Regions from separate parts of the Homo sapiens genome. Here region 1 is linked to region 2. The links come from fine-mapping of genetic effects on gene expression. A gene starts in region 2. The other region holds a variant in brackets. All regions are shown on one strand. Distances are from middle to middle.

What was found.
Region 1: its variant is fine-mapped to the expression of PPEF1 in whole blood (TOPMed, PIP 0.95).

The regions. Positions count from the first base shown.
Region 1 is chrX:18,674,627-18,680,002 of GRCh38, forward strand. TRV-TAC1-2 (tRNA-Val (anticodon TAC) 1-2) reads right to left here and starts at 355; the gene lies at 283-355. It also overlaps a transcript of PPEF1 not described here. RefSeq lists a silencer at 280-466. The variant A/G (reference allele first, on the strand shown) is at 2,210.
Region 2 is chrX:18,705,034-18,710,409 of GRCh38, forward strand. It overlaps PPEF1 (protein phosphatase with EF-hand domain 1), which reads left to right and starts at 2,612. Exons shown (of 16, transcript NM_001377996.1): 1 at 2,612-2,793. The coding sequence starts at 2,748.

The sequences.
Region 1 (5,376 bases), 30 kb before region 2:
GATCGGGGGCGCCGGATCGGGTCTAGGACTTCGCCCGGCCCCTGCCCTCCACTACTTCTCATGTCGGACTATGGCGGCAGTGACCTTGTGGGATAGGAGAGGGTATCTGTCATTTCACTTCTGCGAGAAAAACATGCCAAAAAATTAAAAAGAAAAAAAGGACAAAGAAAAACACTTCGTTGTCGCTTTTTGGTTTTTTTTGTTTGTTTAACCCAAACCCTTTTTTTTTTTTAACCCAAACAACGAAACCCTATAAAAGCAAAAACAGCCGCCTTACGGCTATGGTTCCACTGGGGCTCGAACCCAGGACCTTCTGCGTGTAAAGCAGACGTGATAACCACTACACTATGGAACCTCTACGAGGAAGAATATTGTTGGGACTTTATTCATAGACTCACAGCAGTTCCGGTCCCTCCGCCGGAGCCCCGCCTCTCCACCGTGACCCCGCCCCCGAGGCGAGGAGTTTGCGGCGGCTTCGAGTCTCGGGCTCCGGCGTTTGGGCGGCTTGTCTTCCCTGCCCGCCACAGTCGCGGCCCCTGGGACCAGGGCGAGGCCGGAACCCCGGCCGAGAGCACCTCCCTGCTATCATCTGTCCCCAAACTTTCCCTCAATCGAGGCGCCGGCGGGGCGGCCCGGCGGCCGGAAGTGCACCCTGCTCGGGCTTTGCGCCCCCGGCAGCTTCCTCCGCCCGCGAGGGCCCCGCGCCTTCCCATTTTCCCAACCGGCAAACTGAGCCTCGGCCACCCGGCCCACTTGCCGGTCGGAAGTCAGGACGTCGCCGCTTGCGGCGGCGTGGAAGGCTTCGCCTCCGGAGCAAGGAGGACGGGCCGCTGGTTAGCGGGCCCTTTGCCCGAGGGTGTGGACCTCTACCCGCTCCCCTGCCCCTTCCCGCAGCCTTCTTCCCCTCCCGAGGACAGGCCTAGGGGGTGCAAATGCCAGGGCTTCCGTTAGGTCTCCTTAGTCTAGGGCTGCAGGGGTTGGGGGACGAAGACGTGTAGACGGGGCCACCCGTCTATGGCTTCCAGGGTGGCAGCGGCCCTGGCCACGTGATTGAGGGGCCCAGTGCAAAATGAAGATGCCAGGCCCCTTGTTAAGTTTTTGAGAATTTCACACGGTAACAGCAGAGTATTCAACCTGGTGCGGGGTCCCTGACTTGCTTGCAGGACTGTAGTCTGGGTAACGGGCTGGGACCCTCCATCACAAAGGGTGATTCTTGTTTTTCATCGTCAGTGTCATTTGCCTTCTTCAGGGCTTCCAGGTGGATCTTCGTCACCACCCTAGGATTGCTCACCATTCTCAAGCTTGAAAACCCACCTGCAATCATTTGGGCGGGGGGGGGGGGGCATCTTTAAGCGCCCAGGTGAACTTGGTCTGCAGGCAGCAGCTGTCCTTTTCTCTGGATCTTCTGCTGAGGTCGGTAGGTTGATAAGTGATACTGATTTTGTGGCAGGAACTCCCTTCAGCCAACTCCTGTCTTCCTGGGAAGGCCTCTGGAAGAAACCAGGTGGGTGCAGGGAACACTAAGGTGGGGATCTGGATGTTCGTCTTGATTTGGCCATTCATGAGCTGGGTGCTCGAGCTAGTCAGTTCACCTCTGGTCTCAGTCTCCTCCTTTGTAAATACAAGGGTTGGACTAAACACGTCCCCTTTCACCTCTGGGTCTCAATGTTATGCCCATCTTCCACGTAGGAAAACGGAGGCAGTTATCTGCCATGTAATCCCCCCCACACACACACCCCCGCCCCCCGCCCAGAAGTAGAGGCAGGCCAGCTAGTGGCGTGGGTTTTTCTAGTACCCGTTTCCCGATGTCCTCAGTTAGCTCCCTGTCATATTCATCATGGGGCCCCCTTCTAGTCTGCTTTTTTGGTGAGACGTTTTCAGAGGCCTCTCGAGCGCTTGATGCCTAGATTGTGGGCCACGAGATGACCAGAGTGGCCAGCCACCGGCCGGAGGATACGTTCCTGAGAGCTCCACGTTTCCCACTAGTCAGTGAGCCTCAGGACTCCTGGGAAGCCTGATAATAAGTGTATCCCACCTGTTTCCAAACCCCTAGCGGTCGAAAACAAGACTGCCAGGAACTGGCCCTAAAGTTACACCCACTGGTTGTGTTTTGGATGGTGTCTCTAGGAAATGCTTTGCTCTCCAGCCCCCCACATCCCGATTTTTCTGTCTGCCCCTGGGTATAAAGGTATGTTTGCCAAGTTCCCAC[A/G]CTTAACCTCTGTGCAGAAAAGAAGCTGGTGTCCCTCTGTTGCATGCTTAACCTCTGTGCAGAAAAGAAGCTGGTGTCCCTCTGTTGCATGCGACACAGGTATCTGCCTTTGGTGAAAAACTCTTGTTCCTTTTCTCCATTCCAGGAGGGAAACTGTGTTCTGTTCTCCCCGCCGCCCCTCGCAAGGTGTCATCACAATCTTTTTTTTTTTTTTTTTTTTTAAGACGGAGTCTCGCTCTGTTGCCCAGGCCGGAGTGCAGTGGCACGATCTCAGCTCACTGCAACCTCTGCCTCCCGTTCGAGCAATTCTCCTGCCTCAGCCACCCAAGTAGCTGGGATTACAGGCGCCCCCCCACCATACCTGGCCTACTTTTTGTATTTTTAGTAGAAATGGGGTTTCACCATGTTGGCCAGGTTGATCTCAAACTCCTGGCCTCAAGTGATCCGCCCACCTCGGCCTCCTGAAGTGTTGGGATTGCAGGCGTAAGCCACCGCGCCCGGCCCCACCCAGCTCAAATTCTGTGGTCATTTTTATCACTTGCTTGTTTGCCCTTTCATTTCTTCCTTGTGCTTGTTGGTAAAACCACAATCTCTTACATCTGACTGTCTCCCTACCCTGCCCCTGAACATGGCCCAAGAAGAACACATCCAAGCTGACTGGTTTCACACTAAATTCATGACTGCTTAGCTCAAGTGAACCCTTTCTGCAGTCCAGAATACGTGTCCACTTCTAAGGACGGTTTCATGTCTTATCTCCGTAAACCTCCTGTACCCCCAACCCTAATCTCGGTTACAGCTGATGATCTAGCTTCCTATTGCGGTGAAAAAATGGAAGCAATCAGAAGAGAACTTCTGGAAGTCCCCTGCCAGCCACCGTCTGCTCTCGTGCTCTTCCTCTGGATCAGGATGGGTTGGGACTGGCTAACTCTGTCGTAGGAGGCTGTCCCGTGTATTGTAGGATGTTTTGCAGCATCCCTGGCCTCTATTCACTGGATGCGTGTAGCACACATCCTCCCCCACCACCCAGTTGTGATGACCCAAAATGTCCCCTGGGGGACAAAATCTTGGGAGTTCTTTGGCAATATCTGGAGACGCTTTTGTTGGTTATGACTGGGAGAGGGGTACTATAGGCACCCAGGAGGGAGAGGCCGGGGCGCTGCCAAACATCCTGTGGTGCCAGCTACTCTGGGGGAGTGAGGCGGGCAGAATCCCTTGAGCTCAGGAGGTCGAGGCTGTCGTGAGCCATGATTGCACCGCTGCACTCCAGCCTGGGTGACAGAGTGAGAACCTGGCAAAAAAAAAAAAAAAAAAAAAGCCGGGTGCGATGGCTCACGCTTATAATCCCAGCACTTCGGGAAGCTGAGGCGGGCGGATTGCTTGAGCTCAGGAGTTCAAGACCAGGCTGGCCAACATGGCAAAACCCCATCTCTATAAAAAAATACAAAAAACTTAGCCAGGCATGGTGGCGCACACCTGTAGTCCCAGTTACTCTGGAGGACTGAGGCAGGGAGGATCCCTTGAGCCTGGGGAGGTCGAGGCTGCAACAAGCTGAGATCGCATCACTGCACTCCAGCCTGGGCGACAGAGTGAGACCCCGTCTCAAAAACGAAAACAAAAGCAAAAAAACAGGAAAAAAGCTCTTAATTCCACTTCCACCTGTGCCACTTCCATGTCTCTGCTCTCCTTTATAATACAGTTCTTAGATTGGTCTGGTGCTCTCTCCAGTTCTGTCCCCCCACTGGGACTTGTTCCAGCACTCCACCAAAATTCCTCTGATCCAGTGATTTCCACATTGCTACACAGAATAGCTCTTCCTTTTCATCAGATTTGATCTACTAGCAGCATTGAAAACAACCCATCACTCTGTTTTGAGGTACCTTCCCCTCGGCTTTTAGGATGCGGACCTCTCGCGATGTTTATTTCCTCTCACTGCATACTCCTTTTTGGTCACTTTTGCTGGAGCCTCATCTCTTTGACCTTTAAACACAGCCGTACCTCAGAGGTCTCGGTGCTTGGACTTCTCTATTTGTTCTCACCACCCCAGCGACCTCATTCAATCTAATGGCTTTCAATACCCTTGAGAACCTAGAAGATTCCAGTGTGTATCTCTAGTCTAGACTTTTCTCTCAAACTCCAGACCTACATGTTCAACATCTCCATTTAGATGTCTGTTAGGTTAGGCATCTCACATGTCTGTGTCCACGCTTCTGATCTCTGCCCCTAAATCCGCTTCTCTCTTGATCTGTTTTTCTTTTTTGGAGACAGTTTTGCTCTGTCACCCAGGCTGGAGTGCAGCAGCGCCATCTTAGCTCACTGCAACCTCCACCTCCTGGGTTCAAACAATTCTCGTGCCTCAGCCTCCCGAGTACTTGGGATCACAGGCGTGCGCCACCACATCCGGCTGATTTTTTTCTGTATTTTTAGTAGAGATGGGCTTTTGCTGTTTTGGCCAGGCTGTTCTTAAACTCCTGGCCTCAAGTGATTCACCCACCTCGGTCTCTCAAAGTGTTGGGATTACAGGCGTGAGCCACCGTGCCTGGCCTCTGTTTTCTTTATCGCAGATAATGGCAGCTTCATCTTTCCAGCTATTTAGGCCTAAAACTAAGAATCATACTTGATTCTTCTTTTTCTTACACCCCCAGTGTAATCTTACTAGCAAAGCTTATTGGCACCACCTGCAAGATCTATCTATGCTAGCTTTCTGTCATCTCCCCAGCTACACTCTAATCAAAGCCACTATCACATTTTGCCTGGATCATAGCCAGTAGCCTCAGATCTTGGCCTTTCAGCTTCTGCCCTTTCCCCCCTACAGACTATTCTCCACACAGTAGCCAGAGTGGTCCTTTCAAGATTCAGATTAGCTCTCATCATTCTGTGCAAAACCCTTCAATGGCTCCCTACCTCAACTAGAAAAGCTGAAGCCTTACAGTGGCCTACAAGGCTTGTGCCTCTCTGGTTATAAATCCTCTTACTGGCCAAGCACAGTTGATCATGCTTGTAATCCCAGCACTTTGGAGGCCAAGGTGGGCAGACACTTGAGGCCAGGAGTTTGAGACCAGTCTGGCCAGCATGATGAAATCCCGTCTCTACTAAATATACAAAAATTAGCCAGGTATGGTGGCATGCACGTGTAATCCCAGCTACTTGGGAGGCTAAGATGGGAGGAT
Region 2 (5,376 bases):
TGTATTAAAAATGTTGCCAAATTGATTTCCTTCCTTTCTTCCTCCCCTGCCCTTCCTTCCTTTTCTCCTCCTCCTTCCCTCTCTCTTCTTTTGCTGGAATAAGCTGGAATGTCAAAGTATCAAAATATATACATATCATCATTTTATTAAAATATTTAGTAAAATTCTCCAGGATGTCTCACAGATAAATGAGAGTTATGATAGGTGAGTTTACCAGCTAACTGAACAAATGTGCTCAGCGAGTATGAAGGTAACGGATCTGTGGTGAACCTGGAGGATGGTTTGGAGTGGGATGCCACAGGGCTCATCCTGCCCTTGGATCTGATCTTGTTAATGTTCTTTAGCCATGATGTAGATAAGGAAGACACGAAAGAAATGCCTATCGAATTTGGAAATAAAGCCAAGCACGGTGGCTGATGCCTGTCATCCCAGCACTTTGGGAGGCTGAGGTGGGCACGTTGCTTGAGGCCAGGAGTTTGAGACCAACTTGGGCAACATGGTGAGACCCCATGTCTACAAAAAAGTACAAAAATTAGCTGGGCATGGTGGCGCATGCCTGTAGTTCCAGCTGCTCAGGAGGCTGAGGTAGGAGAATCACTTGAGCCCGGGAGGTGGAGGCTGCAGTGAGTCATGGTTGCGCCACTGCACTCCAGCCTGGGTGACAGAGCGAGACCTTGTCTCAAAAAATAAATAAAAATTTGGAAGTAACCCAAAGTTTAGGAAGGCTAATTCATTCAATACATAAAATAATCAGGTTCACCTCTGGTCAGAAAATCTGTTTACTAAGCTTATTGTTATTTTCAAAACATGGCCATAGTTCAAATATTTTGCTTATTTTAGTTTTCCCTTTCTTCAGTCGAGTTGAAATTTTGAAGCTTTTGGTGTAGTACCAATGGAAAGATAGATATGTCAGTTGTTTGCTGACTTTGTGCCTGTCAAGAAATGCAAATAGGGCTGGGCAAGATGGCTCACACCTGTGATCCCAGCACTTTGGGAGGACAAGGTCGGAGGATCACTTGAGCCCAGGAGTTTGAGACCAGCCTCGGCAACATAGGGAGACCCTGTCTCTACAAAAAAATAAAATTAGCCGGGTGTCACGGCACATGCTTGGGAGGTTAAGGCTGCAGCGAGCCGTGATTGTGCCACTACACTCCATCCTGGGTGACAGAGTGAGACCCTGTCTGAAAAAAAAAAAAAAAAAAAAGGAATGCAAATATATTAGATCAGGTTGGTTTGGAGCATCACAAAATAAAGGAAACATCACCCTAAAAAGTGACGTGACAGTATACTATGGAAAGGAATTTTGTTGAAAACTCCCGTGAAGTGATTATGGGAGTCAGGGAGCTCATGAGAAGGACTATAGAACACAAAGTTAGACTCCAGAGGGGCCTCAGCAGTGCCCAGAGAGCTTGTTTAAAAGGGCACTCTTGGCCAGGCACGGTGGCTCACGCCTGTCATCCCAGCACTTTGGGAGGCCGAGGCAGGTGGATCACCTGAGGTCAGGAGTTCGAGACCATCCTGGCCAACACAGCAAAACCCCGTCTCTACTAAAAATACAAAAAATTAGCCAGGTGTGGTGGCGCATGCCTGTAGTCCCAGCTACTAGGGAGGCTGAGGCGGGAGGATCACCTGAGCCTGGGAGGTTGAGGCTGCAGTGAGCTGTGATCACACCACTGCACTCCAGCCTGGGTAATAGAGCGAGACTCCGTCTCAAAAAATAAAATAAATAAAAGGACACTCTCACAGATTACAATTCCTAAATTTGGGGGGAGGTTTCAAACCTCCTTTTTTTTTTTTTTTTTTTTTTTTTTTTGAGATGGAGTCTCGCTTTGTCGCCCAGGCTAGAGTACAGTGGTGCGATCTCAGCTCACTGCAACCTCCGCCTCCTGGGTTCAAGCGATTCTGCTGCCTCAGCCTCCTGAGTAGCTGGGATTACAGACATGTGCCACCATGCTTGGCTAATTTTTGTACTTTTAGTAGAGACGGGGTTTCACCATGTTGGCCAGGCTGGTCTCGAACTCCTGACCTCGTAATCCGCCCGCCTCGGCCTCCCAAAGTGCTGGGATTGCAGGCGTGAGCCACTGCGACCGGCTGCCTCCTTTTTTTTAAAACAAATGTTCCCAACTTATTCCGCGAAATACTGTCAAAGAACTCACTTTGAATTTCAGCATAGCTGTTAAATATGTTGTTTTTGTCTCATAGTCAACTTCCAATTTGTGTTTTTAAAAGCCTAGATAGGTTGAATTACTTTGAGCTGAAAACCAAAACAGTTAATTATGTCAGCTCCTCCACATCCCATTCCCCATATTTAAATTAGAAAATCGTACACTCTCATATTTCGATTTTTCTTTTCATTTTGAATGCTCTATTTTATACAGAGCTGGATGTGACCTAGACATGGAGAAACTCATTTATGTCTAGCAGAGAAGCAGCCTATAGCTGCTCTGTAGCTGCTGCTGTGTTTTGGAAAATAAGCCAGGATTAGATTATGTCTGATCACTTTCCACATCACATGATGAACAGCGATTCAGAAGAAGCGTAAAATGAATCCTGCTGAGCAGCCCCTCAGCTACCATGTGGTTAACTGGCGGTTTCCTTCCCTCCCTCCTGTGTATTCCTCATTAGAATCTATGACTGAAGAGGATCGGCTAAGAGTGGTTCCTCGCAGCTTAAAGGGAGGCACTTTTCACACTCTGTCTTAAAATCAGAAGTTGAATTCATGAACACATATGATTTAGATAGAAGTCATGGGATGCAGCAGTTCTTCAACGAAAACCAGGAGATCTGACACATGTGAGTACTGGGAATGTGCCTGTGGTTATGAATGAAAAGGGGAAAATGAGCTGCCCTCACCCTCTTCTCCTTTCTCATTTACTCCCACGATGCTCAAGCTGCCCTGTGTGATTTGCACAAGGCATCGTTAGAGTAGCATAGGAAACTACATTTAGGAAGATGTAGCTTTGAATTTATGAAGTACCATAAAGTATTGTCTTAGAGATATTTTGTGTTTGATTTAATTTCATTCGATAATGTACCAATATAAAATCTCAATTTAAAACTCAGTGGCAGGGAACAAGAAAGGCAGTGTAATTTATATGTGTTTCTTCAATACTTTTATAAATAGCTATATCCCTACTTTTGTGACATTTAGTAGCATCATTGAATTTTTATTGGATTTTATAACTCAATGATCACATTATTTCTATATCTATTCAACACAGAACTTCATGAGATTTGCATCACGTTTTAAAAATAATCTAGGAGAATTGGGAGAATGCTAGATCATCTGTTTCCAAAAAAAAGGTGTATTGTTTCTAAATAGATGGCATGCCTTTCTGTACCCCCATATAATTAGAAGCTTAAATATTCACTTTGTTTATTTTGTACTGAGGTTCTTTCTCATGGCTATTGGCATCTAGTTGAAACAAACTTGAGCATTTAAGGGATAGAGTTTCCAACAAGCAAATTAAAATAAAAACAAGTAAATAAGCTGGGACAATTAATATGAGTAATTTGCTCTTAAACTCCACTTCTTTGATGTCTAGGTTATAGGTAATTCCCCCAACTTCTATTCCACGTCTTGCCTTTGGAAGTTTATTCAGGCTTAAGGTGGAGGGTTTAGGATGCAGAGTGTGCTATACTAATTAGCGTGGGATGTTTTACTTTGGGAATCAAATGTTATTCTCCTACCCAGCTGACTTGTGCTGATGATGTAGGAAACTCATCTCTGAAAGTAGGAAGGGACATAGGAGGTGTACTGACTCTTTCAAATCTTTAAGCATGTCATGAAATAAATCTTTCAAAAGCTCCATCTGAACTCTACTGCTGTAGTAGACGTTTATTAGCAGAGAGTAAAGAGAAATTATCTTTTTATATCTAGGATTACTCACAGTTCTTTAAATTTAGCCAAATTTCCTAGGTTAAAAAAAAAAAAGCCAAGTCCAACTTGTAAAAACAAATCCTCTCTCTTTTTGAAATACTTTTCAACTTTTAAAACATTGCATGTAAGTGGAAATATTAGCTTAGATTTTTGGATTGCTTTTTCTTTCAAATACCTGTGATTTATTGAGGTGAAATTCACGTAACATAAAATTAGCCATTGTCAAGTGAACAACTCAGCAGCAGTTGGTATGTTCACAGTGTCGTGCAACCACAACCCCTATGTACTTCTGAGACATTTCCAACACTCCAAAGTAAAACCCCTTATCCATTAAGCACTTTCTCCTCTCAGCCCCTGGCAACCACAAATCTATATTCAGTCTCTATGGATTTATCTATTCTGGACATTTCATGTAAATGGAGTCATATATTATGTGACCTTTTGTGTCTGGCTTTGTCCATGTTGTAGCATGTATCAGTACTATATTCCTTTTTATTGTGGAATAATATTTCATTGTATGAATATGCCACATTGTATTTATCCATTCATCAATTGATAGACATTTGGATTGTTTCAGCTTTGTTTTTTGTTTTTTGTTTTTTTTGAGACAGTCTTGCTCTGTCACCCAGGCTGGAGTGCAGTGGGGCGATCTCGGCTCGCTGCAACCTCCGCCTCCCAGGTTCAAGCGATTCTCCTGCCTCAGCCTCTGGAGTAGCTGGGATTACAGGCACACACCACCACACCTAGCTAATTTTTGTATTTTTGGTAGAGACAGGGTTTCACCATGTTGGCCAGGCTGGTCTCGAACTCCTGACCTCAGGTGATCTGCCCGCCTCGGCCTCCCAAAGCGCTAGGATTACAGGCGTGAGCCACTGTGCCCGACCTGTTTCAGCTTTTTGACTGTTATGAACAATGCTGCTGTGAACATATGTTTTCCGTTCTCTTGGGTATATACCTAGAAGTGGAATTGCTGGGTCATACGGTAGCTTTATGTTTAACATTTTGAGAAATTTCCAAGCTGTTTTCCCAAGTGACTGCACCATTCTACATTCCTACCAGCAGTGTATAAAGGTTTCAATTTCTCCACATTTTCAGCGATAGTTGTTATTGTCTGTCCTTTTGATTTTAGTCATCCTAGTGGGTATGAAGTGGTATCACACCATGGTTTTCATTTGTATTTCAGTAGTGACTAATGACATTGAGCATCTTTTCATGTGTTTATTGGCTATTTGTATATCTGCTTTGGAGAAATGTCTATTCAGATCATTTACCCATTTTTAATTGAATTATTTATTTTTATATTGTTGTAAGATAAATTTATATATTCTAGATACAAGTTTCCTATCAAATATGTGACTTGCAAATATTTTCTCTCATTTGTTGAATTCTCTTCATCCTTTCTTAATGGTGTTCTTTGAAGCACAAAAGTTTTTACTTTTGATGAAGTTCACTTTATTTTTTCTTTGGTTGCTTGTGATTTTGGTGTCATATCTAAG